Linked DNA regions of Homo sapiens: region 1 is linked to region 2. The links come from fine-mapping of genetic effects on gene expression. A gene starts in region 2. The other region holds a variant in brackets. All regions are shown on one strand. Distances are from middle to middle.

Evidence for each region.
Region 1: its variant is fine-mapped to the expression of CCDC198 in prefrontal cortex (CommonMind, PIP 0.95).

Annotation. Positions count from the first base shown.
Region 1 is chr14:57,407,900-57,410,816 of GRCh38, forward strand. It overlaps NAA30 (N-alpha-acetyltransferase 30, NatC catalytic subunit), which reads left to right. Exons shown (of 5, transcript NM_001011713.3): 5 at 1,480-2,917. The coding sequence ends at 1,617. Among named protein-coding and RNA genes, the nearest start is that of NAA30, 19 kb to the left of the region's middle. The variant G/A (reference allele first, on the strand shown) is at 1,648.
Region 2 is chr14:57,492,511-57,495,438 of GRCh38, forward strand. CCDC198 (coiled-coil domain containing 198) reads right to left here and starts at 1,347. Exons shown (of 6, transcript NM_018168.4): 1 at 983-1,347. The coding sequence starts at 1,205. The region is part of intron 1 of LOC105370519 (a long non-coding RNA gene); the gene reads left to right.

The DNA of each region.
Region 1 (2,917 bases), 85 kb before region 2:
AGAGGGAGAATTGACAATAATCAGTGCTTGGATGCATATAGGTGGTTGGAGAGGAATGAGGTTCAAAGATGACTCCTGGGTTTCAGGTTTGAGGCATTGGTGTGGTGGGGGGTGATCCTGTTTACTGAGATATGGAATTGAGGAGGAAGAGCAGATTATGAGTTCAATTTTGGATATAAGTTGAGGTACTGTCTTTATTATTTGCATCAGTTGTTTGCATTCTTGTCAGACTTTTTGATAGCTTGAGAAAGAACAGGAAGAGACTTATGCTTCACTTGGGCCTTTGTTTAATTATACTTTGCCATTTCCCCCCCACCCACTCCAAACACTTGAGGGTTATGACACCCAATAGTAACTGTGGCTCACTGTGTTGATAGTTCTCAATGAAATAAGTTGAGAAACAATTGAAAAGGCAAATAGAGCTACGTGTGTAAAAGTTGGGAAGATGGGGTAGAGGGTGTTAGAGGGAGGTAAAAATAAAATCGCAGTTTTCAAAAATACCAGTTATTCATTGTCAGGGCCACTGGCTCAGTAATATTTCAAAAGACTTAAATGAAAGTTAATACTATGTGTTCCTCTGTTAAGCTTTGCTATATAGACCAGTGGTTCTCAAAATGTGGTCCCTTGACCGCAGCAACATCATCATCTAGCAATTTAAAAATATTAAAAATGCAGATTCTTGTGTCCTACTGCAAACGTACTCATAAACTCTGAGGGTGGGGCTCAGCAATCTATTTTAACAGACCCTTCAGGTGATTATGATACACTGTAACATTTTGAATACCTCTTGTCTGGATTCAGCAAACTTTCTTGGTAAAAGGCCCACTAGTAATTATTTTAGGCTTTGTGGACCATAGGTCTTTGTGGCAACTGCTCAGCTCTGCCCTTGTATTGAGAAAGCCACCACAGACATCATGTAAACAAATAAACATGGCTGTTTGACTAAAACTTTATTTACAAAACAGCAGGCACATTTGGCCCAAAGTCTATAGTTTGCAGACTCTGGTCGAGACTCCAGACAAATATGGTAGTTATTGCCAGAATAAATGACATATTAATGAAAATACAGAAGTTGGAAGTCAATCTGAATAGCTGCTTATAATAATATAGCTTATTATTTTAAGGAAATAAACCAGCACTTTTGATTGTTGATTTTATTTTCATCTGTAGTCATTTTACCTTTCCCCACAGGGAAATAATTAATCTTTGTTTTAGTATAAAACATACTCTCATTGCTAAACATTTCAAACTACACAAATCAGTAGAACAGAAGATAAATCTGCAGTGGTCCTCCAAGCCCTTGACCCAAATATAATATTACAATCTTGATGACTGTTTTTGAGTTCTTTCTGTATATTATTTATTGTTTTCACTATCAATTTTTAAAATAATGTATGATTTTTTAAAAAATTGTTTAGTTGGTAAATTATTTTTTAAATTGTGTAATTATAACTTAGTTTTTTTCTCATTTCTTTGAAGGTTGTTTTGGAAACCGAAATAACAAATAAGTCCGCTTTGAAACTTTATGAAAATCTTGGTTTTGTTCGAGATAAGAGGCTGTTCAGATACTATTTAAATGGAGTTGATGCACTGCGACTTAAACTGTGGCTGCGTTGAGAAACTGACATCAAGGAACAACTATCATCC[G/A]CACAGAATCGACCTTTGCATGCAATGCAATTTGTACAGAATTGCTTTGCAGGTGGATTTAGTAATTTCCATGCAGCTCTTACCTGTCAGTGTCTCATTGAGTGTCGCACAATATTTGTTGCACTTTGGCATGGCACATTTGTTCTGAATTAAAAGATTGTTTTAAACTTCAGGAGTTCTTTTGGTACCAACAAGATGTGCCAGTTGATAGCCAAGATTTATGTGTTCATTTGCAAAGTCTGCTGACAATGTTATTTACACAGTGATCATTTTATCACAGAACCAGTAAGTGGAACATAATTTTTGTTCCTTAAAAAAGCCAATGTGGATTGTAAAAGTCTTTAAGTATACTAACATTTCACACAAAACCTGCCCTAGTTTTCTGAAGTGGGTGAGGGAGACGCTTCAGTTTTAGGTTTTATTTTTTCAATATTAAATTTTCCATTCTTGAATATTGGTACCTCAGTGATTAGTGAATGAAAAAAATGTAGGGTGGGTATGTCTTACAATGAGTAAAGGTAACAATTAAATTTTGTCTGCCAGTGCCTGTGTAGATAAGTATATTTGTCTTCATCTCTAGTTTTTGAATGCATGCTATCTTTTCCTTTTCTTTAAGGCCTTTGCAAGCAAACTTTTGTTTTTATTTAAATTCTAAATTTGATAAATTATTTCAGATTTTTATAATTTGGATACTTTTTTCAGGTGAATGAAAGAATGGTTTACTTTAGAAGTCCCTTTTTCCTTACAGTAACAAGTTGAATCTACTTGGAAAATTGAGAAATGGCTCAAAAGAGATAAGAAAAGTTGATGGAGCCGGGAATTGCTGGGGTTTAGATGCACTTTTTCTTTTGAGAGTAAGGGAAGTTTTGGAAAAGAATAGAAAATTAGTGTAAGTTGATATGATTTTATTTAATCAAAATTACTGCTACGCTGCGAAGAACAGCTTTTACAAAGTAGCTGAATTTGTTTTTCCCACTTGATTTGGATTCACATTGCTTTCATTTCTTAAAATGCTTCACTTCAGGTTCTTGGTCTTGGAAATAAATTTCAAGGTGCATTGTATCCATTTTAAGCTGCTTTATTTTATTTTCACTTGTATGAGCAAATTCTTGGGGGAGCTTTGCTTTTCTTCTGCCAGAAAAACAAAAGGGGGAAATGAAAATCTTTTTTGGAATGAGTTCTGTGGGTTTTCTTAACAGCCACCATGTTTATTAGTTACATTGTGTTTTGGCCAATCAGTGCAATGTAACAAATTTTACAGTTAATTGCT
Region 2 (2,928 bases):
TATCTATCATAAAAAAATTCCTAAGGGGAAAATTCCCATCCATGTGCTTAAGAACTTGAAGAACATAAAGAACATAAAAACAGGCCATATAGAAACAACCAAACGTTATCAATTCTGCAGACAATAGCCATGAAAAATCATTCCAGGCAAGATTTGCTAGGTACCAAAAGAGAATGTGAGGCTTTCTGAACAAGGCATCCAATAAGGGAAACTTATTTGTGTTATTGATCCAGAAGGTGAAGAAAAGGGAAAACAATATACATATATATATGTATATAATAAACATATATTTTTCTAAGTGAGAATGTCTGTTTAATTATCATTGTGGTCATCATAAAACATTTTACATGGCTTATAAAATATCCCAGGATTTATGGCCACTTCAGGCTCAGAGCTTCCAATCATAATGGGAAAGAATTCTGTTAGTTCTGCAGATGACCATGAAGAATGTGGGGTTGGGAAAAGGGTGACTCATCCACTCCTCTGTACTGCAATAAATCAATACTGTTTAGGGTGGTTTCAAAATTCATGTTAGAATTAACTCACTCTTAAAGTGTTGCTTTCAAAACCACAAAGTCTGGTGCATTAAACTATACTGGAGAGAATGATTTAAATTTAGAATCTAACTGAAACGCGATTGCTATCATTTATCACTAGTATCTATATAATTTTAATGGTCTGGCAAAACTAGGTATAAACATTGAAAGCATTACAAACTGAGCTGAAACAAAATGATTTATCCTTCTCATATGGAATAGTGAAAAGTCCTTTGTACAGTTTATACTCCCATTCTAATGAACCCAGAATACTTTCAACTGATGTTCAATCCTCATTGAAAGATTTGAGTTTTCAAAGATAGCCTAAATTCCTTTACATTTCAGGAATTTAGAAACTTTCTGAGATCATGGAGACAGTCAGATAAACCTATTAATAATGCTCCTTGGTCCAGATACACACATCTCATGCTGGGTTTTATGTTTACCTGTAGAATATCTTCCATACCAGTTTTCTTGTAAAGGTGGCAGCTGCCCTTCCAAGGCTTTATTCTGGTCCTGCAGTCTTGCCAGTGAATATGAAGTCTTTTCTTCCAAATTCTGATTGAATGCAAAGTCCACACGGCCAGCCGAGGGAGTCTCTACCTCTTTGTTTTGCAAAGGTGCTACTTTGATCACCCTAAGGTGAGTCTTAGAGTGACTCAGGCCCATTTCATGTGAAAGACATTCAGAGGAAAGCTGCGAGGGAAGTGGTTTTGGGGTCTTTAATATAGCTTATTTTAATCAAAGCATTTCAGAAGTTTACCCTCGCTTTACAAAGCAGTCATTTCCTTCATGGCATCCTTCTAGCTCTGTTTCACTGCACACTAACCCTTTTGGCCACTTCCTGGGAGGCTGGTTTCCATGGAGACTTCCCTTCAACTTTGCCGTTTCAGACCCAAAGAATCCAGTTAAACATTGACTTGGTTATGCTACTTTCTGAAATACTCAGTGATAGGAATAGAAGCCACTGTTGATCATTAAACAAATATCGAACACCAGGAAGGTTATTAACAGAGAGAGATGTAGAGCAGAGGTTTAGAGAAGTCTTAAACTTGACCCTTTCATTGCAAGTACCTTTGTAAAAAAACTAACTGCTGAGAATAGCTAAGCCATCTTTGCAATTAAGAGGATGCATGCTGATTGCCAAGGCTTTGTTAATCTTTAATTTAATTAAAGAATTTATCCCCCAAATAGGAAAGAAAGCAGCGGAGCGGCTAAAGCGTCATTTGATTTTTCTGTCGATGACTTGAGTTGCCTTTGAAGGGGGTGAATACATTGCAGGACAGGAGGATAATAGAAATTTTTTTCCTGGGGATAAGGGGAAAAAATTCTTGAATAAATGGTCTAAGTAAACCTTGAGTTTTTGAAGATAACCTATTTACTATGTTTTTAAACTAAATTAAATTAATTTATTTATTTTTGAGACAGAGTCTCACTCTGTCACCCAAGCTGGAGTCACCCAAGCCCAGCGATCTTGGCTCACCACAACCTCCGCCTCACCAGTTCAAGTGATTCTCCTGAGTCAGCCACCCAAGTAGCTGGGATTACAGGCACCTACTACCACCACACCTGTCTAATTTTTGTATTTTTTAGTACAGAAGGGGTTTCACCATGTTGGCCAGGCTGGTCTCGAACTCCTGACCTCAAGAGATCCACCTGTCTTGGCCTCCCAAAGGGCTGGGATTACACGCATGAGCCACAGTGCCTGGTCTATTATGATTTTTAAAGTAGAAAAAAAGACTGGAAGGAAATGTGCCGAAATATTGAGTAGTGATTTTTGAATGGTGGGATTATGGGTGATTTTTATTTTATTCTTTATACTTAGAAGTGGGACTAACTTTCAAGCTCTAATTGTTCATGAGCACAGATTACTTGTGTTTTCATCACATCTCCATAAAGAAATTAAAAGAAAATTTATTTTTCATCTTTGCAGAATCCATTTCCTAAGGGACTAAGGTGATGTTTGGAAAGTCTTGGTAGACAATCACGTTTATCTAAAAAGATGCCTGAATTTAGTTTTTTCCTTACTCTCTTTGCATTTTCCACATCATTTTCTCTGCAGCAGAGAGGTTTATAAGTAAAGACTAATATATTAACAGTATCTGCAAACACAACAGCCTCTGGTAAACAGACTAGCTTAATTACAAGGATAATAATACTTGAGTAAGGTCTAGTAAGATTTATTTTTTAGTACAATCAGTTTAAGTATTTCTAAGGGCAGGGGAATGTATTGCGAACTAACAAATGAACTAGACATTGTACTGAAAACTGTGGACTTCATGGATCTGGACCAGTAAGAGGGATTCAGCTCTTATGTTTTGTTTTATTATTATTTAATTTTCAGACAATATTTGTGGAGAACATGAGCCTTTGTTGAGGAAATTGGTTAGTT